Regions from separate parts of the Homo sapiens genome. Here region 1 is linked to region 2. The links come from fine-mapping of genetic effects on gene expression. A gene starts in region 2. The other region holds a variant in brackets. All regions are shown on one strand. Distances are between the middles of the regions.

Region 1 (15,113 bases), 90 kb after region 2:
TGGCAGCCCTAGTCCTCAGAATGCTTCCTTCAGAGGAATGCTGCTGTGCCCCTGCAGCATGATACCCCATCTTCTCTTCCTTGTGACAGCCCTGTCATGCTGGGGACCTAAACTTCTACCTCCGAAATCTCCTCTGTACCTGCTGGGGACATTCCTTCGTGTGAGGACCCCATCAGCCTCACTGGCCTGGGACTCCTCGTGGACCCAGAGCCATGGCCCACAGCCTGCCAAGTAGAAATTCCTGCTCCAAAGAGCCTGTTCCTTATCAGCTCATCCACCCCTGGTGGAGCCTTTCAACTCCTGCCCCAGTGCGTTCAGCTGGGAGGATGGGAGGTGTGTCTGGTTCCTCTGCCTTCCTCTCCCCGCTGCTTCCATCCTGCCCTCCCCAGGAATCTCCTGGTTTCTGTGGCTCCGACCCTCCTCCTCAGAAAGCTCAAGCTCATTCCAGGCTCTTCTGTCATGTCAGGCATGTTTGTTGCTGAAACTGGGCATGGGTTAGACTTGTGTACACAAGCAGTTTGTGGCAGACCTGCTATGTGCTTCAGGGCATTGGCCCAGCTGCTGGGGGGCAAATGGAATCAGCTACATTATCCTTAGTCTTGCTCTCAAGAAAATCCTGCCTTTTGGGGCAGAGGAGGTGGGCAGATGGTTGGACAACTGGCTGCCCACCAAGGCAGAACGCCATTGGGCCTCAACAGAGCAGTGAGCAGAGTGCCAGCAGGTTTGACCTCTCCCTGGAGAGGCTTGTCAGCTGAGCACCGTGAGAGAGCAGGATTTGGGTAGGCAGAGAACCAGAGAAGGGAATTCCAGGCTGAGGGAATGGCTGGAGCAAACGCTTCGAGGTGGGAGGATGCCTTTTCTGTTGGGGGCCGGTGAGAGGCCTGTTGTGGTTGGACTACAGGATGCCACATCAGAGCTATGGTGGGGGTAGAGAAAGGACAAGTGGGGTGGAGGGTCCCCTCTCAGCCACACAGCAGCCTGGAGGAAGGGGAGAGGAGAGAAGAACTGATGGGCTGGGATCCCCAGCTCTCCCTGTCCCCCAGGCGCCTGGGGACTGGCACCCTGTCTAAAACTGTAACATCCTCTTCATTGACAGTGTTTTCATTTCTTGCTTAGCAGTGATCAGCACTGACATGCTGTCCATTTACTCATCACCCCCACCATTTACACACAGGTGCACTTGAGTGCCAGCTCTGCCAGGGAAGGATTTGTGTCCCTTTCTTCCCTGCTGTATTCCCCGTGCCTCAAACAGTGCCTGGCACAGAGCAGGTGAATCTTTGTTGGGTAAACAAATGTTCTTCTTTTCCTTCTTCTTTTCATTGTTTTGGTTTGGTTTGCTTTTTTGGCATCAGTTTGGTGAAAAATGAATTTTTTTTTTTTTTTGGCATCTGCCTAAGGCTCAGGGAGAGACCACCCTGAACAGGTGCTTCCTCTTTCGAGGAGTTTACAGCTTAGTGATGGTGTCACAGTCAGCAGAGGAACTTCTGTGAATTTTTAAAAGTTTTGTAGTACAAAATTTTGAGGCTGCAGGAAAGTTCAAAGAAAACAAAACAAAAACAAACCCCTATAATCACAGTGCTCAGAAGGGACCTCTGTTAGCATTTTGGAAAGTTTCCGAAAACACAAAATTGAAATGTGGAAATCTGCTTTCCCCTGAAGTATTGTGTATGCTTAGAAAATAGTAGTAATTGGCCAGGTGCGGTGGCTCACACCTGTAATCCCAGCACTTTGGGAGGCCCTGGTGGGCGGATCACCTGAGGTCAGGAGTTCAAGACCAGCCTGGCCAACAGGGCAAAACCCCATCTCTACTAAAATACAAAAATTAGCCAGGCGTGGTGGTGCGTGCCTGCAATGCCAGCTACTTGGGAGGCTGAGGCATGAGAATCGCTTGAACCCAGGAGGCGGAGGTTGCAGTGAGCCGAGATCACACCATTCCACTCCAGTCTGGACGACAGAGCGAGACTCCATCTCAAAAAAAAAAAAAGAAAAAAAAGAAAAAGAAAAAGAAAAGAAAAGAAAATAGTAGTAATCTCCGTATGCCATGCTGCTGCCTGGGGTTTGAGAATGTAGTCATCTGTCCCTCTGTGGGGCCAAGGGTGCTGGGCTGAATGTGGGGGCACGGGGATGGGGGGAATCTCAGGAAAAGGCTGGAACCTGGCACCTCAGCTGAATCCTGAAGAAGGAATTGGAGTCAGCCAGGCAAAAAAAGGGGTGGAGATGGGCCTGGGCAGGCTGCAGATGAGCCTAGGCCTGGAGGAAACACAGCAGGGACGGTGGGGACCTCTAGCAACTGGTGCTACTGGAGCTTAAAGTTCAAGGCAAGGGGCAAGGAGTGGCAGGAAATAATAGTGGAAGCACAGGCCGGTGAGGGACGGTCTCTTGTGCCTGGTTAAGGGCTTAGACTTTGCCCTGCAGCCAGCAGGGAGCTCTGAGGTGTGAATCAGGAGAGCCTCTGTTCCGGGAGGCTTACGCATGGCTAGGTTTATGTTCTATGTGATTGAACCCCCAGCTGCCCTCACTCTCCTTTGGGGTGGAGTAAAACAATTCACCTCTCTTTGCCCCTCCATTCTCCAGCCCATCTGGCTGTCCTGTCTCCCTCTCTTGTCTGGAATTGGTTCTGACACCTGCAAACTTCACCTTGGAAAGTTCAGTCCCCAAATCCAGACAGGGTGCTGATTCCAATCCCAGAGCTTTCTGGGCTGAGAGTGGGGTGGGGTGGGAGCTCTCAGTGGAGCTGTAAGAATGCAGCTTGAATCCAGGAGGTGGTGGTTGCAGTGAGCCAAGATTGCGCCACTGCACTCCAGCCTGGGTGACAGAGCTAGACCCCATCTCAAAAAAAAGAATGCAGCAGGGCCCTGAATGGGCACCATAAACAGGGGCACGCCCCAGACCACTTCTCAGTTCCTGCCCAACCTCTGACTTGCCTCTGTGAGTGCACAGTTGTGAGAACTGGGTTATCGATGTTTTATTATTATTGATAAATATAATTAATGTAATTGACCCACCCGTCTGGGGCACTAAATACTTTACAAAGTACTTTCAAGAGCATTTCCTCATTCACTCTTCACTACAGTTTCCGGAATGGACAGAGCAGACATTTTACACCCAGGAAACTGAGGCAGAGAGGTAGTGTGACTTCCTGAAGGTCGCCCAAGGGGCTAAAGCTCAAGAAGAGGCCACTTCTAACAGGCACTTCCCCTTTCAAGGAGTTTACGGCTTAGTGATGGTGTCACAGTGAGCAGAAGAACTTACGTGATTTTTAAAATGCTTTGTTGTACAAAATTTTGAGGCTGCAGAAAAGTTTAAAGAAAATAAAGCGAAAACAAATAAACCCCTATAATCGCACTGCCCAGAGGGGACCTCTGTTACCATTTTGGAAGGTTTCTGAAAACACAAAATTCCTCCTTTCTCCTCCCGCAGGTGGACGACCCACCGGAGCCCGTGTACGCGAACATAGAGAGGCAGCCCCGGGCCACTTCACCGGGCGCCGCTGCAGCCCCCCTTCCCAGCCCGGTGTGGGAGACGCACACGGACGCGGGCACCGGGCGCCCCTACTACTACAACCCAGACACGGGAGTTACCACCTGGGAGTCGCCCTTTGAGGCTGCCGAGGGTGCCGCCAGCCCAGCCACCTCCCCTGCCTCGGTGGACAGCCACGTGAGCCTTGAGACCGAGTGGGGCCAGTACTGGGATGAGGAGAGCCGCAGGGTGTTCTTCTACAACCCGCTGACGGGCGAGACGGCCTGGGAGGACGAGGCCGAGAACGAGCCCGAGGAGGAGTTGGAGATGCAGCCGGGCCTGAGCCCTGGCAGCCCAGGGGACCCGCGGGTGAGGGGCAGGGCCAGAGTGGGCGGTTCTACCTCTGAGCGCCTCTGATCCCGCCTCCTGCTCCCAGAGGCCCAGGGACACACGGGTGAGGGGGTGGTGATGGGTGGGCGGGGCTACCTCTGAGAGCCTTTGACCCCTTCTCCTGCTCCCACAGACCCAGGGACCCCAGGGTGAAGGGCGGGGCTGGAGTGGGCGGGGCTACCTCTGAGCGCCTTTGACCCCACCTCCTGCTCCCACAGACCTAAGGACCAGAGGGTGAGGGGTGGGGCAGGATGGGTGGGGCTACCTCTAAGCGCTTCTGACCCCGCCTCCTGTTTCTGCAGACCCAGGGACCAGAAGGTGAGGGGCAGGGCTGGAGTGGGCGGGGCTACCTCTGACGCCTTCTGCTCCCACAGCCCCAGGGACCAGAGGGTGAGGTGCGGAGCTACCTCTGAGCGCTTCTGACCCCGCCTCCTGCTCCCACAGCCTCAGGGACCAGAAGGCAAGGGGGTGGGCCTGGTCCAAAACGGCAGGGCCAGCAGGCAGTACTGGCACTCAGAGCCTCTGACTCCACCTTCTGTTCCCCGCAGCCCCCCACTCCCGAGACGGACTACCCCGAGTCGCTGACCAGTTACCCCGAGGAGGACTATTCTCCCGTGGGCTCTTTCGGTGAGCCCGGCCCTACCTCTCCCTTGACCACACCCCCCGGCTGGTCTTGTCATGTCAGCCAGGACAAGCAGATGCTCTACACCAACCACTTCACTCAGGAGCAGGTAGGGGCAGGGGGCAGATGGACCCGGACAGCCTCAGAGTCCTCCCCACAACCTTCCTCACTAATAGGTCGCCTCAGTGCTCTAAACCGCAGCTCCCACACAGAGCCTAAACCAGCCAAACACAGTCACCTGCACCTGCCCCTCCAGACTCCCTGGTGCTGTCTTGGAACCTGGTTAGAGGGAAACTTTTCCTCCCCTCTCATAAGCTGGGCTGGAGGCCCTGACCATTCCTCTCCCCACAGTGGGTGAGGCTGGAGGACCCCCACGGGAAGCCATACTTCTACAATCCAGAGGACTCCTCTGTTCGATGGGAGCTGCCCCAGGTAACAACCTGGGGAAAGGGGGGTGTTGGGGAGAGAGGAAGAGATCATATACGACTGTGTCTTTCTCCCCAGGTCCCTGTCCCTGCCCCTCGAAGCATCCATAAATCCAGCCAGGATGGTGACACCCCAGCCCAGGCCAGCCCTCCAGAGGAGAAGGTAGGGGAGGAGCCATTGAGGTCCTGGCAGGACCACCACAGAAGCAGTGGGGGGCTTCTGGAGTTCCTGGGAGGAGGGACTTGGTGGGATCTATCTGTCTTCCCCCATAGGTCCCAGCAGAGCTGGATGAGGTTGGGAGCTGGGAGGAAGTCTCTCCTGCCACAGCTGCTGTGAGGGTAGGCATCACCCCCTACCCCCAGCCAGGTGGTGGTGCTGGCGAGGAGGGTTCAGTGGAGACACGGGCCCAGACCATAGAGAGTGGCAGCTGAGCAGGTGACCAGCCTCTACTCCCCATAGCTCACCCCTTAACTACACACTCTTGCGCCTGCTCTCTCTTCTCTCTCTTAGACCAAGACCTTGGACAAGGCAGGGGTGCTCCATCGCACCAAGACGGCAGACAAGGGAAAGCGGCTCCGGTGAGAGCCCATCTACACTCAGGCCGGGGCAGGGTGGGCCTTGGTGACGATGTTCACTGAGCACTTCCTGTATGCCAGGCTCTTATTAATCCTCACAACAACTTCGTGAGTGGTCCTCTGTGGACCCTGAGACACTGTGAGATAAAGTGACTTGCTCAAGGTCCCTCGGCTGCTAGGTGTTAGAGTCGGGATTCCAGCCCTCATAATGGGGTGCCCTAGCCTGTGTTCCTAAGCTCTGACTTGTTCCTGGGGTAGGAGGGGCCCTCAGCCCAGGACCAAATCTAAGTCCTGCCACCCCCACTTCCCCACCCCCACCTAGGAAGAAGCACTGGAGTGCCTCCTGGACTGTGCTGGAGGGTGGCGTCCTGACATTCTTCAAGGACTCAAAGACCTCGGCTGCAGGCGGCCTGGTAAGGCCAGGCCCTCAGGGCAGGGACCATCCCATCTGCTTTTTTTTATTTTTATTTTTATTTTTTTTGAGACGGAGTCTCGCTCTGTCACCCAGGCTGGAGTGTAGTGGTGTAATCTCGGCTCACTGCAACCTCTCCCTCCTGAGTGCTCCTGCCTCAGCCTCTCGAGTAGCTAGGACTACAGGCATGTGCCACCATGTGCGGCTAATTTTTGTGTTTTTAGTAGAGATAGGGTTTTACTATGTTGGCCAGACTGGTCTTGGACTCTTGACCTCAGGTGATCCGCCCACCTCGACCTCCTCAAGTGCTGAGATTACAGGCGTGAGCCACTGTGCCCAGCCCCCATCTGCTCTATCTAATCTGGCTTGGAGATGACCAGGTCTGAGAGAGTGGTCCATGAGTGTCAGAGGAGCTGGGCCTTGGCAGGAAGGGGGTGATACTGGCAGATTCACTCCAAGACAAGTAGTTTTAGCCCACTGGAGATGGGGAACAGTCTTGAGGGTGGCCAGCTCCAGCCTGGAGGGCAGGGAGGCTGGGGGTGGGCACACCTGCTTGCAGGGATGCAGACTGCACTCCTTTCCTGTCCTCCCCTGGGTGGGTGGGCAGCAGTGGACATGCCAGCCAGCAGGCTCCATGGTTAAGAAGCATCAGGGTCTCTGGGTTCAGGAACACTTGGGGCACTTTTCCCCAGAGTTGTTTCCTGGCCATGCCAGTGACCCCATCCTATTCCTAGGGTCAGAGTGCCACAGCAGACACATCTGAACTGAGGGCTCCCTGTGACCTTCCTCCCTCTCCCACAGAGGCAGCCTTCCAAGTTTTCCACCCCTGAGTACACAGTGGAGCTGAGGGGGGCCACTCTCTCCTGGGCCCCCAAAGACAAATCCAGTAGGAAGAATGTGCTGGAGGTGAGTGGCGGGGTTGGGGAGAAGGAGGGAAGGGGCTTAGTGATGCCTGCCAGCTCTCTGACAACTATTGACCTGGAAATGACCTGGGGGTTTTTGACCCTTAATTCCCTATGAGCCAACACTGAGTGCAGCTTTTGGCTGTATTAATAGAGGTAGGAACCCAGAGCCAGAGAGGTGATATTGGTGCAGTTGTTGGCAGTGCTGTGGGACCCTTACTGTAGGCAAGCCCCAAGAAGGAGGACCTGGGAAGAATTGGGGCTACCATTCTCAGGGCTCAAGGCCAACGCTGCACCCCCGCCCCAGGGGACCTGTCCTTTGTTTCTAACATCACATATTCTGCAGTTCC[C/T]TCTCCAGGAGCTGAGTTAATAATAATCCTTGCCCTGGAGGGTGGTGAGGAGTAGGGCCTCTGGGAGAGGAAATTCTCATGACTAGAATGGCAGCCCTCGTCCCAGCCTGAGAGAGACAGGAGGCTCCCTGTCCCTGGCTGCTTACTGTGACAGGCCTGGTTGGGAAACCTCTTTCTCCCCAGGTCCCTTTCCCTGCCCCTGAGCCAGAGCCCCATTTCCGACTGGACCGCATCCCCAGTGAATAAACTGGGGCAGTGGAGAAGACTACCATGCTACCCCCGCAGGAAGGGAGAGAAGACCCAGAAAGGGTACTCCCAATGCCACACCCTTCACTGTCCATGTGTTGTCTTGTTTTTAAACTACTCTTACCCTGACCTCAGTACCTAGAAGGTTTGAGGCAGATCACAACAGAAACACACGTGGTGAACTGTCAAATTAACTGAAAAGCCAGGACCATGAAAAACAAGTAAGAGATGGGACTCAAGATGGAGAGGAATTAGGGGGCAGATGATGTATGGGTGCTAAGGTGGTGGTTACTGAAGAAAATTTAGCTCCGACTTTCCTGCTAGGTGAGGTGAAAAGAGAAGGGCTATCAGGTGCATGTCTCTTTGTTGTTGAACAAATAATAAAACCCACCCAGATGTTGAGGGAATCAAAGCTTTTTCCTAACCCTTCACTCTTAAATTTCTTGTATGTAGCTCCATGAACATGGGATCTAGAAGCACATGCCAGGTACCCTGCAAAACAGCTCCAGGAAGGTTTAATTCAGGATCCGGGACTGCTTCAGGTAGCATCATTATGATGAAGGCCAAGAGCATGACCTCATGTCTAAGCTCAGAAAAAACAGTTCTGCAAGGAACCTGAGAGTGTAGTTTCCTGATTATTCACCAAGCTCCATTCAGTTCTAGAGCCAGGATATCTATAAAGCAAAGTTGGAAAACTGGTTTCATCTCATGAGCTACTCTGATGAGTAGGTCTGGAGTCTTGTGGGGTTTTGTTTTTGTTTTTATTTTTTGTTTCTGTTTTTAGAGACAAGGTCTTGCTCTGTTGCCCAGGCTGAAGTGCAGTGGCACGGTCAGAGCTCACTGAAACCACAAGCCCCTGGGCTCAAGCGATCTTCCCACCTAAGGCTTCCGAGTAGCTAGGACTACAGGCGCGTTCCATCACATCTGGCTAATTTTAGTTTTTATAGAGATGGGGGCTCACTATGTTGCCCAGGCAGGTCTCAAACTCATGGCCTCAAGTGATCCTCCAGCCTTGGCCTCCCAAAGGGTTGAGATTACAGGTGTGAGCCACTGTGCCTAGCCTGGAGCCTTCTTGAGAAGAATTCTGAAGGCTTCTCTGGGCTTGGCAGGATAGAGTTCTGTGATCAACTAACAATATCTGCTATGGTGTTAAATTGAGGAGAGACATCACTATTATGATTATGATTATGATTATGATTATGATTATTATCCAGAGTCTCACTCTGTTGCCCAGGCTGAAGTGCAGTGGTGCAATCTTGGCTCACTGCAACCTCTGCCTCTCGGATTCAAGTGAGTCTCCTGCCTCAGCGTCCCGAGTAGCTGGGACTACAGGCGCCTGCCACCATACCCGGCTAATTTTTTTGTATTTAGTAAAGACAGGGTTTTACCATGTTGGCCAGGATGGTCTCAATCTACTGGCCTCAGGTGATTTACCTGCCTTGGCCTCCCAAAGTGCTGGGATTACAGGTGTGAGCCACCATGCCCGGTCTGAGACATCACCTGTGCTAGTCATGTTTCTCCCCTGACTTTGAGGGATAGGTATATCCTTCAAACAGTTCTCAATGAAGATCATCACTGATGGACTTTTGATGAAAGTTTCAGAATAGGGCTTTTTGAGTTGTCTTTGCTGGCAAGGACTGGAAGGCAGGTGCTGCTCAGGCCAGTGGGAAGGTGGGCAGGCCTGAATGGAAATCACAAGCCCCTGCCTCCTGGTTGACTGCTGGCCATCCTCCCTCCATGCAGGGCGGCCTGTAGGCAGCTCCAGGGTTTTCCTCAAGAGACAGCCCCAAATTTTATATCATTGAGGATGGATGGCTTTGTTGGGCCCAGGAAATTTTCACAGCAGGTCTTTCTAGTCACCCCGAGTTACAGAAAACTTCAGCAACAGTCCGCCAAAAGCTGCTAGCATTTGCCTGTGCGGTCAGCAGGATAAATGTTTTGTTTATTTGTTTGTTCTTAGAGATAGGGTCTTACTGTGTTGCCCAGGCTGGAGTGCAGTGGCTTGATCGTAGCTCACTGCAGCTTCCAACTCCTGGACTGAAGTGATGCTGTCACTTCAGCCTCCCCAGTAGCTGGAAGTACAGGTGCACACTAGCATGTCTGGCTAATTTGTAAAAATTTTTCTAGATATAGGGTCTCACTATATTGCCCAGGATTGAACTCCTGGTCTCAAGGACTCCTCCCACCTTGCCCTTCCAAAGCACTAGGATTATGGGCATGAGCCGTTGTGCCTGGCTGGGGGTGAATATTTTGTGAAATACATTGCTATGTAATGATACAGCTTTGCCCTCTATATGAAACTTGCAAATATGAACTGATTATGTTTTGAGAGAGCTGCCAAAAATCATGGCTGTTGTTTTAGAAGTGTTGTCAAGCCATTCTCTGGGATAATCTTGAGCAGGGCTCTTGTCTGCTTTGATTAGAGTGAGGCTGTGTTATCTGCCTCTTGAAGGTTCTCTGTCCTTTGCAGGGGAGGGCTAGGGGATGAGATATGCCATTTTCTTTTCTTTTCTTTTCTTTTCTTTTCTTTGAGACAGAGTGTTGCTCTGTTGCCCTGGCTGGAGTGCAGTGGTGCGATCTCGGCTCACTGCAATCTCTGCCTCCCGGGTTCAAGCGATTCTCCTGCCTCAGCCTCCCGAGTAGCTGGGACTACAGGTGCGTGCCACCAGGCCCAGCTAATTTTTTGCATTTTTAGTAGTGGCAGGGTTTCACTGTGTTAGCCAGAATGGTCTCCATCTCCTGACCTCATGATCCACCCGCCTCAGCCTCCCAAAGTGCTGGGATTACAGGCATGAGCCACTGCGCCCAGCCTCATTTCATTTTAAAAAGCAGTTTAAATAGTCTTCAAGTATAAGTTTAAAAGGACAGCAAAGATAGTCCAATCCAATTCTAGAAGTTGTGTCCTGGGGTCTGAGACAGTTTCTGTTGTCTCTGACTCTCGCTGAACCAAAAGGGCAGGGTTGGTGTGAGCTGTTGCCGCCAAACATTCACATTAACCTGGAACACTGGGTCCTCAGAGCCAGAGGCTGATAAGGAATCCAACTAAGCTGCCATCCAACTCAGAAAGGGCTTTGAGCGTCAGTCCTATGGTGGCAAGTTTCCCTCTGGTGTTCTGTTTAATTTATGCTTCATGATGAAGCGGGCTAACAGAAGATGTGTTGCCCAGGCTGGAGTGTGGGAGGTGGTGGGGACTCCTGGCTGCAGAAGGTGGGACAACGTTTCTGAGTCCTCAGTGTGTGTATGGGGAGGGGCAAGGGGAGACCTTTCTTTCCCTGGGATCAGCCATGATCAGCTTTCAAATCCTCTCTCCCTATATTCACTGTTGCTTCTAGTAGACAGGGGTCTCAACATAGGAAGTTTCTGGGTTTTGTTTTGTTTTTTTTTTTTTGAGACGGAGTCTTGCTCTGTCGCCCAGGGTGAAGTGCAGTGGCATGATCTCGGCTCACGGTAACCTCCGCTTCCCGGGTTCAAGCAGTTCTTCTGCCTCAGCTTCCCAAGTAGCTGGGATTACAGGAGCCCGCCACCATGCCTGGCTAATTTTTGTATTTTTAGTAGAGACGGGGTTTCACCATGTTGGCCAGGCTGGTCTCAAACTCCTGACCTCATGATCTGCCCGCCTCGGCCTCCCAAAGTGCTGGGATTACAGGTATGAGCCATCGTGCCTGGCCTCACATAGGAAGTTTCTTTCACTTAGTTTGCAGGCCAGTGCTCTGCATGAGGCCTGCCATGTTCTGTGGCTTGCAGGGAGGCAGGATGGGGGAGGGAAAGTGTACCAGACAATTGAGCCATGCAGCTCTGTGCTCATCACTCACTAGCTGTGTGCCCATGAGGAAGCAGCTAAAACTTGCTGAGCCTCAGTTTGCTCATCTGTAACACAGAGATGCTGTCAGCCACTGCTTTACGTGAGGCAGAGATCCAAGACTTAGCCTGGGGTGAGGCCCTTGCTCCATTAAGCTCTGAGTGCCTGGGGGCAGGGACAGGTCACCTCTATCTCTGTACCTACCCCCAACTAGGGCCAACCCCCAGGGCAGACCCAGGGTACCAGAGATGACCCACTGACTTGTGTCCCTCCAGCTACGGAGCCGAGATGGCTCTGAGTACCTGATCCAGCACGACTCGGAGGCCATCATCAGCACCTGGCATAAGGCCATTGCTCAGGGCATCCAGGAGCTGGTAAGCAGAGCCCAGGGCCTCTAGGGGCAGTGGGGAGGGGGTGGCCATTATGAGTGGGGCCCTCTGCTCAGGCTCAGGGAGCTCTAAGGTACCAGTGGGTAATGCAAATGCAGTCCCCACTAATGGCTAGGATGGCAGGGTAGGCGGCTGAAGAAACTGCCTTCTGTAAGTCTGTGAATCCAGCCCTGGGGTTGGCCCTGCAGGAAGACTCTCCAGGTGAGGGTAGGGCACATTCTAAAGGAAGTTCCCATTTCACGGGAGGCAGAAGGCCAAATAAATACTCTGCAAGCCAACCAATGGCAGGCTGAAACTAGCAGATAAAATTTTAAAGGATTGATTTCAATAGTCGACCATTTTTTTAAGGCTGAAAACACCAATTGCATAAGTAGAGCTAGGACAGGGGCCCTCTGACAACTACTGACCTGGAAATGACCTGGGGCTTTTTGACCCTTAATTCCCTATGAGCCAACATTGAGTGAAGCTTTTGGCTGTATTAATAGAGGTAGGAATCCAGAGCCAGAGAGGTGATATTGGTGCAGTTGTTGGCAGTGCTCCGGCCACAGCTGGAGGTGCAGGCTCAGAACTGGGAGCCACGTATTGAGGAATGCTGACCCAGTTAGAGGAGCTGAGGAAAATAGAGAAAGAAGGCACCAGGTGGGTAGGAGTCCCCAGGATAGGAAGGGGTGTGGGAGAACAGGATGACTGTCTCTGCACCTTAAGGGCTCCATGCAGCTAAGGGAGGTGAATGTTCTCAGGCTCACTGGTGGAGGTAAGGAGAGTTAACCTGGTTAAGGGAAGAGAGGACTCTTCGCTGAGGGTCTCCAGGCCATGCCTGTTGGGAGTGCATTTCGGGTCCCTTGCCCCATCCTGGAAGGACCCGCAGCTGGCTCAAGGCCCCGCCTCTCTGAGGCTATGGGAATCCAGTCCGCAGAGCTGCCCCCAGAGGAGAGCGAGAGCAGCAGAGTGGACTTCGGGTCGAGCGAGCGCTTGGGAAGCTGGCAGGAGAAAGAGGAGGACGCGCGACCGAATGCAGGTGTGCGCAAGGCAGGATGGGGTGGGGGCTCCAGGAGGCCTCTCCTGGGGAGTGACGGTTGCTGGGGCCTGCCTGGCCTGCCCTGGCGCTGCCTCCTGACTCAGTCCTGCCTTTCCCCGCGGCAGCCGCGCCCGCCCTGGGCCCCGTGGGCCTGGAGAGCGACTTGAGCAAGGTCCGGCACAAGCTCCGCAAGTTCCTCCAGAGGCGGCCCACACTGCAGTCGCTGCGGGAGAAGGGCTACATCAAAGGTACCCGAGGCCTGCGGGGGGCGGGGACCCGGGACCGGGACGGGGCGCAGGCTGGGCAGGAGCTGATGAGCCTCTGCCCTAGACCAGGTGTTCGGCTGCGCGCTGGCCGCGCTGTGTGAGCGCGAGAGGAGCCGGGTGCCACGCTTCGTGCAGCAGTGCATCCGCGCCGTCGAGGCCCGCGGTACGTGCGCTGCGGGGGTGAGGGCGGCAGGCATTGGGGTGCCCGCAGGCCTCCTGCCAGGACCGCAGGCTGGAGACCCCTGGATGGACGCAGGGTCCAGGGGGAAAGTACGGGAGGCCCCGAGTGGGAGTCATAGCAGGGACCCGTAGCCCCACCCTATCCCCATCCCTGAACCCGGGATCAGCGCCTCCCTCTGGCCCAGGGCTGGACATCGACGGGCTGTACCGCATCAGTGGAAACCTGGCCACCATCCAGAAGCTACGCTATAAGGTGGACCACGGTGAGGCCCGTCCCCAACCCCTGCCCCAGGGCCTGAAGGCGCAAGGGGTACTGATTTCCCTTCCGTCCTCCTCCCTTCCTCCGCCACAGATGAGCGCCTTGACCTGGATGACGGGCGCTGGGAGGACGTCCACGTTATCACCGGAGCCCTGAAGCTCTTCTTTCGGGAGCTGCCCGAGCCCCTCTTCCCCTTCTCGCACTTCCGCCAGTTCATTGCGGCCATCAGTGAGCACCTGGGGCAGGTGGGGCGGATGGGGTAGGGGCGTGGCGGGGCACCCCTTTAGCAGGCTCCCCTCGCCCAGCCGATACCCCCTACCTCCCGTTCCGACTCCCTCCCTCTAAACCTTCCCTCACCCAGAGTTGCAGGACCAGGCCCGGCGCAGCCGCTGTGTGCGTGACTTGGTGCGCTCGCTGCCCGCTCCCAACCACGACACTCTGCGGATGCTCTTCCAGCACCTCTGCCGGTGAGCCGGGCGGCCCGCGCGGGAAGGGGGAGGCAGGTCCCGGCTGAAGCCCCCAGCGCCTCCCCGCAGTTCGCAGTTCGGAGCCCTGAACCCACCCACCCCTGCCACAGGGTGATCGAGCACGGCGAGCAGAACCGCATGTCGGTGCAGAGCGTGGCCATTGTGTTCGGGCCCACGCTGCTGCGGCCCGAGGTGGAAGAGACCAGCATGCCCATGACCATGGTGTTCCAGAACCAGGTGGTGGAGCTCATCCTGCAGCAGTGCGCGGACATCTTCCCGCCGCACTGACTGCTGGCCTGTGACTGGGGCGGCGGCCGCGGTCCTGCCACACAAGCTGGGCGGCGGAGGCCACGCAGCCGGGCCTTCTTCTCTCTGGGACCCTCCGCCAGCGCATAGCCGCAGGCCGGTGTGACTTCTGCACCCTCGGTTCTGAGGGTACGGTGACCCCTAGTGGGCAGTTTGCAAAATGTGATTCCTTCTTCCCAACTCCCCATCCCCCCTTCCCTTCCCGTCACGTCCTGTTTGGGGGTTAATTCGGTTTTTTCTCTGTTGCATCGCGCCTACTGTGCGTGTGCGATAGCGTGTGTGGGGGTGAGAGTTTGTTTTCTGGAATGGTAGGTGCTGGGAGGAGGAGTTTGATGGAGGGCTTCCTGGCTGCTTCTGGCCCTCACCTCGTGGAGGCCTTCACAGAGACCCTGTGGGCCCTGGCCCTGTGCTGGCACTGTGCCAGTCATGAGGCAGCTCTGATCACTTCCCCACTGTGGAAACAGGACTGACCCAGCCTTCAGTGTGGGCTGCTGAAGCTATCCTCCTCAGGCCTCAGGGATGACCTCCTGCCTGAGCCTCTCACAGGCTGGCTGTGGGCCAGTTTCATCTGCTTTCCTGTTGGGGGTCCCGGGCCTCTGCTGTCCTTGACCCACTGGTGTTCTGTGCAAGGCTTCTTCCCATTCACCAAGTGCACACCTTGCATCTGCCGCTCGGCATGCACCAGTTCCACACACCATCCCATTTTACAGACAAGGACGCTGAGGCCTGCAGCAGCAGTGTGACTTGCTCAAGGTCCAGTGAGTGACCTCATTCCCCAGAAAAGGCTCCTCCCACACCAGAGTACAGCCTGGGTAGGGGGAAAATCAGTTCTTTCAGCTACCACCCATCCAACCTTTGGGCCTATGTGAAAAGAAAGGAACTAAGCTGGGTGTGTTCTGTCTGGACCTGGGGAGGCCCCTGAAGGCAAAGAGGGAAACTGTCCCAGCTGTTCTGTCCTAGGGGAGGGGGACATAGCCCTAGCAGGAGCTCCCAGCCCCTCTTGGCACTCTGACACACAAGTACACCCATCTGGGGCCCGCTTTGCCA
Region 2 (15,113 bases):
CCAAGTGGGAGGATAGCTTGAGGCCAATAGTTCAAGAACACCCTGGGCAACATAGTGAAGCCCCTTTTCTACAAAAAATTTATTTATTTTTATTTTTTTTGAGACGGGTCTCACTCTGTCACCCAGGCTGCAGTGCAGTGGCGCAGTCTCAGCTTATTACAACATCTGTCTCCTGGGTTCAAGCGATTATCGTGCCTCAGCCTCCAAGTAGCTGGGACTACAGGCACGCACCACCATACCCAGCAAATTTTTGTATTTTTGGTAGAGACAAGGTTTCGCCATGTTGGCCAGGCTGGTCTCGAACTCCTGACCTCAGGTGATCTGCCCGCCTCAGCCTCCCAAAGTGCTGAGATTACAGGCATGAGCCACTGCGCCCAGGCAAAAAATTTAAAATAGTAAAAATCAGCCAAACATGGTGGCATTCATCTGTAGTCCCAGCAACTTAGGAGGCTGAGGTGGGAGGATTTCTTGAGCCCAGGAGGTCAAGGTTGCAGTGACCTATGACTGCACCACTGCACTCCAGCCTGGACAACAGAGTGAGGCCCTGTCTCAAAAAATAAATAAATAGGAGTTTGAGGCCATGTTCACACTCACTGCAGTCCAGTCTGGTAAACAGAGCAAGACGCTGAGTCTTTAAAAAAAAAAAAATTTTTTTTAAAGTCAGCTGCTAAGACACACTAGCCACATATCAAGTGCTCAACTGCCCCGTGTGGCTAATGGCTTCCAAACTGGCAGCACAGGCAACTGTTTTCATCACTGAAGTTCTGTTGGACAAGAATACCTCTGGAAGCACACACGAGAAACTGGTAATGGCGGTTGCCTTCGGGGAGGGAAACTGGGAGAGTGCAGGGCTGTATGCCCTTTTGTACCTCTTGAATTTCATATCATGCGTTTGTACTAGGTGTTTACAAATTATTTTAAAAACATACTGGGAATTAGGAATCCCCATATGGAATCACTGCAGTGGGACACTGATTCCCAAAAAATTACTTTGCAATTTGCCTAAAACAAATTAAGCTAATAGCTATCATGATTTCATATTTAATATTTTTTCACAGCTTAGAGTTTTTTTAGCTCCTGTTGCTATCTCTCTGCTCTTATGAGCTCACAGGGTGACAAAGTGAATTAGTAAGTAGCAGGAGAACATTAAAGGAAAAACTCCTGGGCAACAGGGCAAAACGCCGGCTCTACAGAAAATACAAAACATTAGCCAGGCATGGTGGCATGCACCTATGGTCTTAGCGACTTGGGAGGCTGAGGTGGGAGGATCGCTTGAGCCCGGAAGGCGGTAACTCAATCCCAGCAGAATCCCAGGGAGCGAAGGTGGCTCATCCCAAAAGAAAAACAAGAAGGAAATTCTATTACCAGAAGACAAAGGGATGAAATGAGGGATGGAGAATCAAAGACTGAAGCTACTAGGGTTTGTTTTTATTAATATTTAATTTTTTCAGAGGCAAGGGTCTCAGCATGTTGCCCAGGCTGGCCTTGAACTCCTGGCCTCAAGCAATCCTCCTGCCTGAGCCTTCCGAGTTGTTGGGATTACAGATATGAGCCACTGCATCCAACTTTGGTTCTTGTTTGTCTGTTTTGTTTTGTTTTGTTTTTTTGACAGAGTTTTGCTGTGCCACCCAGGCTGGAGTGCAGTGACTCAGCCTCGGCTCACTGCAGCCTTGACCTTCTGGCCTCAAGTGATCCTCCCACCTCAGCGCCAACCCCCACTGCCCTCCAATATCTGGGACTACAGGTGCGCGTGACCGCGCACAGCTAATTTTTAAATTTTTTGTAGAGATAGGGTTTCACTATGTGGCTCAGGCTGGTCTCCAACTCCTGGACTAAGCGATCTGCCTGCCTTGGCCACCTCCCAAAGTGTGAGCCACCGTGCCCACCCATTGAACATTGAAGCTAGACTGGGCAAACCCTTAAGCCTAAACCAGTAACAGTTTTTCACAAGTTCATAGATGTTACTGTGGTTAATAACACACAAATTCATTTAAAAGCATGTGTGTCCTCATAGTAATTTTTGGTCCTTATTTTTATTTTTATTTTTCAGTTAATGGATATTAAAGATACAACTTTATTTTGTTTTTTTTGAGACAGGGTCTCACTCTGTCGCCCAGGCTGGAGTGCAGTGGCATGATCAGAGCTCATTGCAACCTCCACCTCCTGGGTTCAAGAGATTCTCCTCCCTCAGCTTCCTGAGTAGCTGGGATTGCAGGTACATGCAACCACACCTGGCTAATTTTTGTACTTTTTGTAGAGATAGGGTTTTACCATGTTGCTCACGCTGGTTTTGAACTCCTGAGCTCAAGTGATCCACCTGCCTCGGCCTCCCAAACTGCTGGGATTACACACGTGAGCCACCACACCCGGCCTAAAGATATAATTTCTATCATGAGGAGATCCAAGAACTATTCTCTTTTTCTTTTTTTAATGTTAGAAAGGGATTCTTAACTGAGTATGTGCTGCAGCAAAGGGAGGGGAAATTAAGCAAGAAGAGAAGGGAGCCAGGAAATAAAGGCCCCAACCCAGGAAGCAGTTAAGCAAAGTTCCAGGATGACCACATGTGACAAGTTTAGGGGATAACTTGAGCACATGGAGGACAGAACTTGGAGAGGGCACTGTGGGCCTGGGCGCCACCTGCTCCACCAGAGCACTGGAAGAGAACGATGGCACGATAATGGCAGATGGCACTGAAAGAAAAGGAGAGAGCTTGAGGCACCCTTGGGGGAAGCAGCCATCATCAGAGTGTATTTTATTTTTATTTTATTATATTTTGAGATAGAGTCTCACTCTGTTGCCCAGGCTGGAGTGCAGTGGCATGATCTCGGCTCACTGCAACCTCCACCTCCCAGGTTCCAGTGATTCTCTGCCTCAGCCTCCCAAGTAGCTGAGACTACAGGGGGCACCACCACACCGGCTAATTTTTGTATTTTTAGTAGAGATGGGGTTTCTCCATGTTGGCCAGGTTGGTCTTGAACTCCCGACCTCAGGTGATCCGCCCACCTTGGCCTCCCGAAGTGCTGGGATTACAGGCGTGAGCCACCATGCCTGACCTCACAGCACATTATTAAGCTCTGTGGTGAATAATATTTATATAGTCACAATTCTGTAAACACTGTTCATTTTCTACAAATTGTGGCAAACCCAAACCTCAAGAATGGACAGGGCTGGGGTGTAAAAGAGCTAAGTCCTTGCCAGGTTTACCAGGAAGGCAACAGACAGTGTCTAAAACTATGAGACAGCTGGGCGCGGTGGCTCACGCCTGTAATCCCAGCACTTTGGGAGGCCAAGGCAGGTGGATCACGTGAGGTCAGGAGTTTGAGATCAGCCTTGACAACATGGTGAAACCCCGCGTCTACTAAAAATATCAAATTAGCTGGGCATGGTGGCAGGTGCCTGTAATCCCAGCTAGTAGGGAGGCTGAGGCAGGAGCATTGCTTGAACCCAGGAGGGGGAGGTTGCAGTGAGCCAAGATGGCACCACTGCACTCCAGCCTGGGTGACAGAGTGAGACTGTGTCTCAAAAAAATAATAAAATACAAACAATGAGACGTGCAGGAGATGTGGGGAGAAGCACCAGAAGATTCTGCTGAAAGCCTGCTCCCCAGAAGGGTGGGAACAATAGGGACAATGAACTGCTGTTGTTCGTTATGTTTCATCCCCATTCCGTTTCATTTTATTGAATTGTAAACCGTGTGTATAACAACACTTTTTAATCAATTTTTTAAAAAAGAGAGAGTGGAAAGAAACCGCTTCCTACAACAGAACTGAAGAGCACACCAGTGATTACAGTGTCCAGAGAGGAGGGTGCATTAACACTAGTTTTATTATTTCAATCAGATGCCAAGCAAGAATATATCTGGGGTTCAGACAAGAAAGGCTCTCATTCAAGTGCTTACAAGAGCAATGGAAGGCAAGGACCTGCCCAATTGGCAGGGTGAAAATTAGCCACAACTAGAATAGTAACAACTGTTCATCTTTGAGCACTTACTACAGGCCAGAACTTGCATTAAGGATATCATCTTTTTCTTTTCTTTTTTTCTTTTCCTTTTTTTTTTTTTTTTTTTGTTGTTGTTGTTTTGGAACAGAGTCTCACTCTGTCATGTAGGCTGCAGTGCAGTGGCGCAATCTCAGCTCACTGCAACCTCAGCCTCCCAGGTTCAAGCGATTCTTGTGCCTCAGCCTCACAAGTACCTGGGACTACAGGCATGAACCACCATGCCTGGCTAATTTTTGTATCTTTGGTAGAGATGGGGTTTCACCATGTTGGCCAGGCTGGTTTCGAACTCCTGGCCTCAAGTAATCCACCCACCTCAGCCTCCCAAAGTTATGGGATTACAGGCGTGAGCCACTGTGCCCAGCCAGGATATCATGATATTTACTCCTCACATCAACTGACATTAGCCCCTATTTACAATGAGGAACTGAGGCTCAGAGAGGTTTTGGCACTTGCCTGAGGTCACACACTCTGGGCTCTCTGCTTGGGGCTGAGGGCGAAGGGGCGTTGTGACTTACTTCTCTTTCCTGAACATCAATAAAATTCAATTTAGAAATTTCTGTCTTCAGTGCGATCTCAACGGGCCTGTGAAAAATGCTGACTCGGTGGCAGCTGTCAGCTATCTTAGCCCCATACTCATTGGGTTGCCCTGGGCCCCACACTGTTTTAAGGAAGTCCCAGCAAACAATATGGGATAGAGATGAGATTCAAACCTAAACAGCCCTGGCTCTAAAATCCACTGAACAAAGCTGAAACTAGAATCAGAAAGAACTAGGTAAGAATCCTACTTCTAGCACTTACTACTTCTGTGGCTGTGGCCCCCCCGCAAGTTACTTAACCTCTTTTTTTTTTTTTTTTAAGAGATGAAGTCTCGCTCTGTCACCAGGCTGGAGTGCAGTGGCGTGATCTCGGTTCACTGCAACCTCTGCCTCCTGGGTTCAAGCGATTCTCCTGCTTCAGCCTCCCAAGTAGCTGGGACTACAGATGCGTGCTACCACGCCCAGCTAATTCTTTGTATTTTAGTAGAGACAGGGTTTCACCATGTTGGCCAGGATGGTCTGGATCTCTTGATCTCATGATCCACCCACCTCGGCCTCCCAAAGTGCTGGGATTACAGGCATGAGCCACCGCACCTGGCCACTTAACCTCTTTTAAGCCTATTTTCTCATCCATACAATAGAGATAATGGCAGCACCCACCTTTCAGGTGGCTGGTAAGGAATATTAGGTGAACACAGGTGCCTATGTATGTTCTTCCATTTTCCATAAATGTTAATTCCCTTATCCCTCATCTCCTAGGTTAGTCCCGGAGGACAGACTTGAACTTTGAAAACAGAAAGTAACTGCCAAAAGGGATTATTTAGGGCACAGATTTCCCCCTTTCATTATCCTTTAGGTCCTCAGTGGTGAGGGCAGGGGACAGGAGAGGTGGGGTGAAGCCCAAATTCTTGGACCTCATCCTAGAGTGACTCTTTAGGGTTAGTGTGGGGCTTAGGAATCTGCATTTTGGACCTGTCCCCAGGGCATTCTGATGCCTACAGTTCTCCTGTGTGGCTTTGAATAACGCTGGGTAGTGCTTTAAATCCAAGCTGACAGACCAGTGGGATGTGAACCATCCTTGCAAATGGTTTGAGCCCTTTCTGCACTGGCCTCCAACTTTGCCTTGCTCAGTCTTCAGCTCCCCTTCCATTCTGGCCCTCTCCCCTTACCCTTTCCTTTTTCACTTCCTTTTATTTTTATTTATTTTTATTATTATTTAAAAAAAATTTTTTTTGAGACAGGATCTCACTCTGTCGCCCAGGCTGTAGTGCAGTGGCATTATCTTGGCTCACTGCAATCTCCGCCTCCCGGGTTCAAGCAATTCTCATACCTCAGCCTCCTTAGTAGCTGGGACTACAGACACACACCACCACACCTGGCTAATTTTTGTATTTTTAGTAGAGATGGGCTTTCACCATGTTGGCCAGGCAGGTCTCGAACTCCTGACCTCAAGTGATCCACCAGCTTCGGCCACCCAAAGTGCTGGGATTACAGGCATGACCCACCGTGCCCAGCCTCCTTTTTCACTTCCCACCTTCCTCCCCACCTCTGGGTGCACCCTTCCCTGAGCTCAGCCTGTATTCCTATGTGCTGGCCACTTACCAGCCAGTCCCTTCAGCTGCAATACCCTTTACTCACCTAGAAAGCTCATATCAAAAGTCGCCTCCTCCAGAATACCTCTCAAGTTCTCCTCTCTGGTCCCTTGGCCCTTTGCAGGTACCTTTTTTCTTGCGCAAGTCACGTGATAATGTAAGGGTTTTTTTTTTTTTTTTCCCCCCCATCTGGAGCCTGCCTGGTGGGCTCAGGGTCCATTTGTGCAAACATGCATTTCCCTCTCCTCTGCGCCCCCTCCTTCATGATCCATGCTTTATGCAGCTTCCCCAAGGCATGCAGAGCAAGCTGAGAAGAGGTAGGCAAGCCTGAAGACTTTTCAAAGAAGCAGGGTAGCTTGGGAAGTAAGAGAAGACCAGGAGATAGGGGCTCCTAAAAAGCAGACAAGAGATTACCGAGGGGTTCCCCACAGCTCCAGCACACAGCCGCTGCACAAAAATGCAGTGGAATTACTGAGGGACATTATGTGCTTGATGGGGGACAGGGAATGCTTGTGCCAAGCCACCAAGGATTATGCTGTGCCAGTTGTATACTATCGTTTTGCCAAGGTGAAAGGATTTCCCTACTAAATCCCTTACTTTCCACTTTGTTTAAAATGAGTTTAACACCGAGAGAATAGTTTGTCTCTATGTCCTTATTTCTAATCTTCCTGCTCAACCATTAACTGCAGTAAACACACTCAGACCCATCTAGTCTAAAATTGAGAAGGGGAGGTTCTCACTCCTGGAGAGAGAATTACTGAAAGGGCGGCCCTCATACAGTCCAGGGTCATACCCCCAAGTGCTGGTTTTATACTTGAAAGCAGACAGTGGGACTCTGAACTTTGCAGAGATAAGAGGGACACCTTCCTACCCAGAGAAGCCAAAAGAGCACAGGACGCCCAGGCCGAGGGCAGTGAAGCTTGCTTCCAAGAACTGGCCCGTTCCCCAGCCAACCCCTGTGCCCACTTAGGACTGGCATGTAGCAGTACCTCTCCTCATCCACACTCAGGCCCTAGGCTCCCAATTGACCAAAGCCTGCAAGTATAAAGTGTCCAGAGCATGGGTCCCTGCCAACACTCCCTGCCCTGCTCTTCACTACCTGTGGCCACCACTTATGACATTTTGTTCCGAGTTCATCTGAAAGAGAAATGTCACTTTTGCGTTAGAAAGAAGATATACAGGCCAGGTGTGGTGGTTCATGCCTGTAATCCCAGCACTTTGGGAGGCCGAGTCAGGAGGATCGCCTGAGGCCAGGAGTTGGAGACCAGGTTAGGTAACACAGTGAGACCCCTGTCTCTACAAAATAAACAAATTTTTTTAAAAATGAAAAGATTGGCCGGGCGCGGTGGCTCACGCCTGTGATCCCAGCACTTTGGGAGGCCGAGGCGGGTGGATCACCAGGTCAGGAGATCGAGACCATCCTGGCTAACACGGTGAAACCCCATCTCTACTAAAAACATAAAAAAATTAGCCGGGCGTGGTGGCGGGCTCCTGTAGTCCCAGCTACTCGGGAGGCTGAGGCAGGAGAATGGCGTCAATCCAGGAGGCGGAGCTTGCAGTGAGCCGAGATCGCGCCATTGCACTCCAGCCTGGGCGACAGAGCCAGACTCCGTCGCAAAAAAAAAAAAAAAAAGAAAAAAGAAAAAATTAGCTGGGCGTGGTGGTGCACGCCTGTAGTCCCAGCTGCTTGGAGGCTGAGGTGGGAGAACCACTTAGTCCGTGAGGTCAAAGCTGTGGTGAGCCGTGATCGTGCCACAGCACTCCAGTCTGGGCGACAGAGTGAGACCCTGTCTCAAAAAAAAAGCAGAAAGGAAGAAAGAAATCCTCTACACGGGCTAGAAGAGAATAACCAGACCCCTAAGCTTCAAGCCAGGCGGTGCTAATGGGCGAGTTACACACGGGAGAGTGCCCAAGGGGACCTCAAGGCGTTCCCTTGGGATAAAGTGTGGTCAAAACAGCTATGTTTATCCTGAAAGCGCAAGGCGGAGGCTCCAATTTGGGCCCGGGCTCCGCCCCACGGGCTGCACTGCTGCCCTCGGAGAGGCAAAGATAGGGCAGGCGTTATTAGTCCCACTCACAAGTGGGAACTCTTCAGCTGAGGGAGGCGAAGTGACAGCCCCAATGTTGCACAGATGGTTCTGAGGCCAAACGAGGTCAGGAACCCAGAAGCCAGGATCTAGTTTGACGCAGACCTGCGGGAGGCGGGCGGTAACGGATGCGTTCTCCCTGACACCGGTGCCTTCGCCTCTCTGCGCCCTGCAGGCGCCCCCAGTTCCCCAGCCTCCCAGACCTCGCATCTGCCCCGGGGCTCAGCTCCCAGGGACTTCCGGGAGCAGCTGGCCCCGCCCCAAGGCTCCTTCGGGCTGCGCGATTGGCACCGCGGGCCGGGGCAGGGCCGGAGCGCCGAGCCAACGTGATGGCGTCAGGGGCCGGGGCGCCGCTTCCTGTTGTCAGTGGCCGAGAGACCGCATCGTCGGCTCGGAGGCTGAGGGGCTGCCGCGGCCGGGAGCGCCCCTCGCCTCGCTCCTCGCTCCGCTTGGTGAGTTAGGGGGTCAAGATGCGAGGAGGGCGGCGGAGTGGTGGGAGGGCCGAGGCGCGAACGGGCGGTGGGCCTCCCGCTCCCTCCGCGATTCCCAGCCCCTGGTTACCCTGAGACTGCCCGGCTTCAGGGCCCTCAGCCCTGTCCAGCCCGCGCCCGCTCCTCTCCGACCCAGCCTTCCCCCTGCACCGCCGCTGTGGCCCCGTCCCCTCCGTCTGTCCAGCCCCCAGCCCGCGCCCGCATCCCCTCACCAGCGGTCTTGCTTAAATGCAGCTTCACTCGTGACCCCACTTTACCCCAGTTCCAACACCGATCTCGGCCACGTCCCTTCGCCCCGCCCTGACACACCTCATCCTCTCTCCCCACCCCTCTGGTAATCCCGATGCTCCGCGCTTACCTCCCCGAGACCCACCATTCAGGTTTCCCCTTTTCTGGCTCAGCTTTCTTATCCCAGTCACCCCCATCCCCCGTCTAGCTCCCCAAGATCTGCTCATCCCAAACATTCTACCTCCGCCCTCTCATCTAAGACCCACCCCCAAAGTAGGTGCCCTGTTGAGCTCACCGCTTTCTTCTGGATAACTCCGATCTCAGCCTTATTCCAAGTCTTAACTGTGTCTTCTCGTCCTTAGTCTCCTAGCCACTGTATACCTTCCTTTGCGTCTCCTGCCGTACTGAGGACAGCCCATCCCTAAGTCTTTGCCAAACTGTCCCGAACTCTTGCTGCCTCCTTTCCTACCACCCTCACCCAATCTTGTTAAAAATGACATCTCCATGTCCTTTCACCCCCGCTGACCCACCGCAACTCTTCACCCCAACTCTGCGTCCATTGCTTCCCTCGACCCAACTCCCATTCAACCTGAGAACTTAGTGCAGAGTCGCCTGCCAACTCCACCAGCTGCCCCTCAACAGCCAAATGTAGGTGCTCACTCAGACCCGCAGTTACAGACTGAGCAGCATGATTGGCGGGTGCAGGGGCTCAGGTGGTAAATAAGGGTGGAGGAGCAGTGGGCTCTCCCCAACTCTTGGGTGGGGCCGGGGTTTTTCCTGGCATCTGGTCTCCTGCACCTGTCCTCAGGGATTGTGTTTTTGGCATTCATATTAAATGACTTGTGCTGGCTGCTGGAATGGTAGGTATCATTCAAATATCTGGAAGGTGAGAGACGGCCACTCACTCAGCTCACTTAGCACAGAATGATGGAAGCTGTCACTTCCTTCTGGTTGGTGTTCTCGCCCTGGAGAGCTTCTGGGAAGTTCTGTGTGGTGTTGGCTGTGGTCACAGAATATTGTTCGTGTTCCTTTTCTTGGCACTTGTAAGGGCCTCTCCCTGCCAGAGCTGATGGCAGATCAGTCCTGATGCTGAATTCAGGGGATATGATGGGTGCCAGAGGCAACGTTACCTGTTGTGAAGAGTATAGGTGAGTAGGTCCTGGGGAGGCTGAGGCCTAGGTGGGTACAGAGGCTCTTGAATCGCTTTCTTTTCTTTTAAGTGCTGGATCATTGACTTTTGGCCATCTGGGTTCCATGAACACAGGGAACCATGTTATCTCAGAGTAGCTGAGGCAGAAGGACATTCCAGAGGCACCCAAGTCCCATGCTCAGCATTTATAGTTTCCTGGGGGCTTTTTGGTACACATTTTCTCTGAATCCTGAGGACCCGGCATCAGATGGGTGGGCCATTTGATTGCAGCTTTTTTCTTTCTTTCTTTCTTTTTTTCGACGGAGTTTACTCTTGTTCCCCAGCCTGGAGTGCAGTGGCATGATCTCGGCTCACCGCAACCTCTGCCTCCCAGGTTCAAGCGATTCTCCTGCCTCAGCCTCCCGAGTAGCTGGGATTACAGGCATACACCACCATGCCCGGCTAGTTTTGTATTTTTAGTAGAGATGGGGGTTTCTCTGTGTTGATCAGGCTGGTCTCCAACTCCCGACCTCAGGTGATCCACCCACCTCGGCCTCCCAAAGTGCTGGGATTACGGGCGTGAGCCGCCGCACCTGGCTGATTGCAGTTTTAAAGAGCCCCAAAGAACACTGTCTCTGCTTGCCACTTATAGTCGTATTCCTTTGAAAAGTGAATGCTGTTTACCTTCAATGTCCTCCCATTAATATGCAGTATATTTAAGTTGTTTTCAGCCTTATTGGCAGCTTGGCTTAATGACAGGAGCTCCACAGTTGCCCCAGCACTTAAGAGTTGTATACCCCAACTTCCCACAGTGTGTGAAGTGGAGGTACTTACCCCGTGCCTTGTTTTTATTTTATTAATCAATTCATTCAACAGCTTATTTTTTGAGCACCAGTGTGTGACAAACACTGTTCCAGGTACTAGAAATACAATGGTGAATGGGTCAGGCAACGGTCCTGTTTTCATTCATTCAGAGTTTGGTCCTTGTTAGAATCCTCTGGGATATGGGACAAGAATACAGGAAAGCTGGGTGATACTGGATGGAAGGAAGGAGGGAGGAAAGAAAGATAGCTAGTGTTCACTGACTCCACAATTCTGCCCTCATCCACTAGCCCTGAGTCTGGGAATCACAAGCTAAAAGTTTCTCACCCTTCATCTGGTATTTAATTGCTTCAAAGCTCCAACCCCCACCACTCCACCCATCACAGAAATCCAGCTTTCCTCAGGTGGACAGAGGTGCAGTTTCCTCAGTCAGCACTCACATGCCTGAAAGATCAGCTGCCTTTCTGAATCAGAGGATAACTTTGTCATTCTTTTCCAATTGAAAAAACATGACTCATCAATTGGTACAGCAGTTGGATGGCTTAAAGCCAGGCTGTGGCTCTGAACAGCCAGTTACACAATTCAGGCAGTGGAGAGAAGGCCGTGGGGAGTGGCTGAGGAGTCCCTCAAGAGAAGAGGTTGCTGTTCACTGATGGTGGAGTGTTTTGAGAGTGGTGGAACCAGGTTATCCCTTTCTTCTTTTAACGTAAGTCTCATCCAAGTCATTCTCTTTTTTTGCTTCCTTGATCTCTGGAGGAAGTGAAATTGGACATATAGAGAAGGCCAGGCAGTATAATGCAGGAAACCAACCGGAACTGTTCCTTCCTAACTATGTTGGAACATTTAAGAAAGTATAGCTCTGAGACTTTAGGAGCATTGGTAGGACCTGGTCTCAGCTGGTTGGGGCTATAAACCTGATTGGCAGAACTGTTTCTTGTTGGTTTCAGACCTTCTGTGATGAAATGGAGCTTCCGAGTACCTCTAAAGAAGAAGTAATAGTTTGTCTGAATTTGAGCCAAAGACCTGAGGCCTTTTGGTCCAGGGAAAGATGCAGGAGTTGGGATGAAGAAACCAGAGAGTTCTGTCCCTTACCCGAGACCCATTGCTACTGAGCCTCAGTTTTGTCCTCTGTAAAACAGGGATAATCACTCTCTCACGGGATTGCTGTGAGAATTAAATGAGGTTAGAGAGGGACATCAGAGAAGCTTGCTTTCTGCACTCTGGAGAGCTATGTGAAGGCGAATGAATACACAGGGTGGCAGTAGACTTGGTGTGGTTTGGGGCTTCCTAAATGGCACCAGTCACCTTTCCCCTGCTAAGATTTCACCCGTCATGTTCAAGAGCCCTTTGGTACTGTTGCCCAGCTTTGCCTCACTCCCTTCAGGTAGGTCTCCTTGAAGCCACACCTCTCTTCACTTTGGTTCTTTGTGTCAATGAAGAGCGTTTTGAGGACAGAAAGTGGAACCAGTTCCATAGGATGGTAGATTCAGAATCTGGGCCACCAGGGTGGGTGACGCAGTACTGTCCCCACAGTCAAGAGACACAAAGCCTCCTTCTGATTCCCGCCGTGAGTTCTTATGTCACTGACCATCTGAGCCCTGCCTCCCTGAGCATGATGGAACAGATACAGATAGGTGGGGTGCTATGGCTGCCTACAAACAGAGGTGTCCTGCATTGTGGCTGGAACCCCAGAGGCTCAGTCCTGTCTTGTGAATTTTCAAGTGGCTCTTCTGCTGGATTTCTCTGAGCTCTTGTCAGTCATTTTGTGGCATTTCTGACTCTGTTTTAGGCCAAGTGACCCTTCTCTTGTCTGGCCCTGTCTCTCTTAGCTTCAGTTTATTATTATTAATTTTTTTTTTTGAGATGGAGTCTCGCTCTGTTGCCCAAGCTGGGGTGCAGTGGCACAATCTTGGCTCACTGCAAGCTCCACCTCCTGGGTCCACGCCATTCTCCTGCCTCAGCCTCCCAAGTAGCTGGGACTACAGGTGCCCGCCCGGCTAATTTTTTGTATTTTTAGTAGAGATGGGGTTTCACCGTGTTAGCCAGGATGGTCTCGATCTCCTGACCTCGTGATCCACCCGCCTCGGCCTCCCAAAGTGCTGGGATTACAGGCGTGAGCCACCGCGCCCAGCCAGCTTCAGTTTATTATTTATTTATTTATTTGAGACATAAATTATTATTATTATTATTATTTTTTTATTTTATCTTTTTTTTTTTGAGACGGAGTCTCTCTCTGTCGCCTAGGCTGGAGTGCAGTGGCGGGATCTCGGCTCACTGCAAGCTCCGCCTCCCAGGTTCACGCCATTCTCCTGCCTCAGCCTCCCGAGTAGCTGGGACTACAGGCGCTCACCACTGCACCCGGCTAATTTTTTTGTATTTTTAGTAGAGACGGGGTTTCACCGTGTTAGCCAGGATGGTCTCGATCTCCTGACCTCGTGATCCGCCGGCCTCGGCCTCCCAAAGTGCTGGGATTACAGGCGTGAGCCACGGCGCCATGCCATAAATTATTTATTTATTTATTTATTCTTGCTTTGCTGCCCCGGCTGGAGTGCAGTGGCATGATCTCGACTCACTGCAACCTCCGCCTCCTGGGTTCAAGTGGTTCTCCTGCCTCAGCCGGTATGGTAGCTGGTAATACCAGTAGCTGGTATTACAGGCATGGGCCACCATGCCTGGCTAATTTTTGTTTTTTTTTTTAATTAGAGATAGGGTTTCACCATGTTGGCCAGGCTGGTCTCAAACTCCTGACCTCAAGTGATCCTCCTGCCTCGGCCTCCCAAAGTGCTGGGATTACAGGTGTGGGCCACGGCACCTGGCCTATTTTGTCTTCTTAGCATACTGTTACTTGGCCAGAGCACTCACTTACCAATGGCCTGCTCCTCCCAGTGAATACTCTGTGAATACTCTATCACTCTCAGCTAATTAGTTAATGAGGTCTTAATGGGCCTGGGCTATAATTCAAATTATTGGGTCTAAGTCCTTAGGGTCCCGGCCCTGTAGCTGGTTAAGGGAAGGGCAACTTTGGGGCTTCGGGCTCTCTCTAGAAGGGTGGGCCTGAGGGCCTCAGGCCACTGGAAATTGTGGACTGGGATTGGAGCCCAGGGTTTCGGAGCCAGAGAAGCTGGACGTGGCCTGCTGAGCTGCAAAAGGGTAGCCTTGATGGAGCCTGACCTCAAGACCAGGCCTGTTTCTGGAAGTGACCCTAGATGCAGAGTCACTGCAGCATACAACCCCCTTTTCCTGTCACCCCGTGGCCAGAATGTGGAACTGGTCTCCAGAGGAGGGCTCTGAGAATCCCTGGGTAGCTGGGAGCAGACTATGGTGAAGGGTGAGGCAGTCAGATGGGGCTGTAGTCAGGACTGAGGGCTCTTCTGGCCATCTGCAGCACCCGGCCTGTTACTGGGTCTGCAGGAACCATCCTCCATACATGCCTGCTTCCTCCTGAGGGACCTGACTTAGGGAGGTTGGCTCTGGGTCCTGACTCCCTGTGTCCTGTTTGCCCTCTGCTATCCCCAGAAGCCAGAGATCCAATCAGAGCACCTTCCACCATTTAGGGCCAGCCTGCCTGTCTGCTTTCCAAACCTCATGCTGCTCCAGGGCTGTCCAGGAAACCTTTCCTGCCACACTGGCCTTAATGTTCCCCTGCACCCCCTGTTCCCGGCCCCCAGCGAAAGGGTCTTCCCAGACCACCCCTGGAATCCTAGCTCTGAGGTGATGGCACTGTTGATGAAAAAGCCAAACTCTGTTAAATATTCGAAGAGGTTTATTCTGAGCCAAATGTGAGGGCCATGACCTGTGACATAGTCCTGGGAGGTCCTGAGAACATGTGCCCAAGGTGATTGGGGTACAGCTTGATTTTTATCCAAGTTACAGGCAGAAGTTACAGGCAAAGACATAAATTGATATATGTAAGGTATACATTGGTGGGGACAGGGTAAGGTGGATTAAAAGATTTTCCTGATTGGCAATTGGCTGAAAAAGTTAAACTTTGCCTAAAGAGTTAAAAGTCAGCAGAAGAAAAGCTTGGGGTTAAGATAAGGTGGGTTGTGAAAGCCAAGGTTCATGTAACGTAGATGAAGCCTTCAAGAGAATAGATGGTAAATGTCTCTAAGGTGTCAGACTCTTAGTTAAATCTCCTCTAAATCAGGAAAAGGCCTAGAAAGGGAAGGGAATCTCTGCAGGACATAAATTTTCCCAACAAGAGATGGCTTTGCAGGGCCATTCCAAAC

What was found. PIP is the estimated chance that this variant, and not a neighbour inherited with it, causes the effect.
Region 1: its variant is fine-mapped to the expression of PLEKHM1 in whole blood (INTERVAL, PIP 0.99).

Annotation. Positions count from the first base shown.
Region 1 is chr17:45,394,391-45,409,503 of GRCh38, reverse strand. It overlaps ARHGAP27 (Rho GTPase activating protein 27), which reads left to right. Exons shown (of 20, transcript NM_001282290.2): 5 at 3,421-3,828; 6 at 4,398-4,580; 7 at 4,823-4,903; 8 at 4,976-5,059; 9 at 5,170-5,235; 10 at 5,408-5,475; 11 at 5,795-5,885; 12 at 6,686-6,790; 13 at 11,457-11,555; 14 at 12,480-12,588; 15 at 12,714-12,836; 16 at 12,919-13,017; 17 at 13,220-13,297; 18 at 13,387-13,521; 2 more. The coding sequence ends at 14,048. Among named protein-coding and RNA genes, the nearest start is that of ARHGAP27, 31 kb to the left of the region's middle. RefSeq lists a silencer at 13,595-13,752 and an enhancer at 14,384-15,043. The variant C/T (reference allele first, on the strand shown) is at 7,137.
Region 2 is chr17:45,484,205-45,499,317 of GRCh38, reverse strand. It overlaps PLEKHM1 (pleckstrin homology and RUN domain containing M1), which reads left to right and starts at 8,597. Exons shown (of 12, transcript NM_014798.3): 1 at 8,597-8,666. It overlaps LOC105369225 (a long non-coding RNA gene), which reads right to left and starts at 8,446. Exons shown (of 5, transcript XR_002958152.2): 1 at 1-8,446.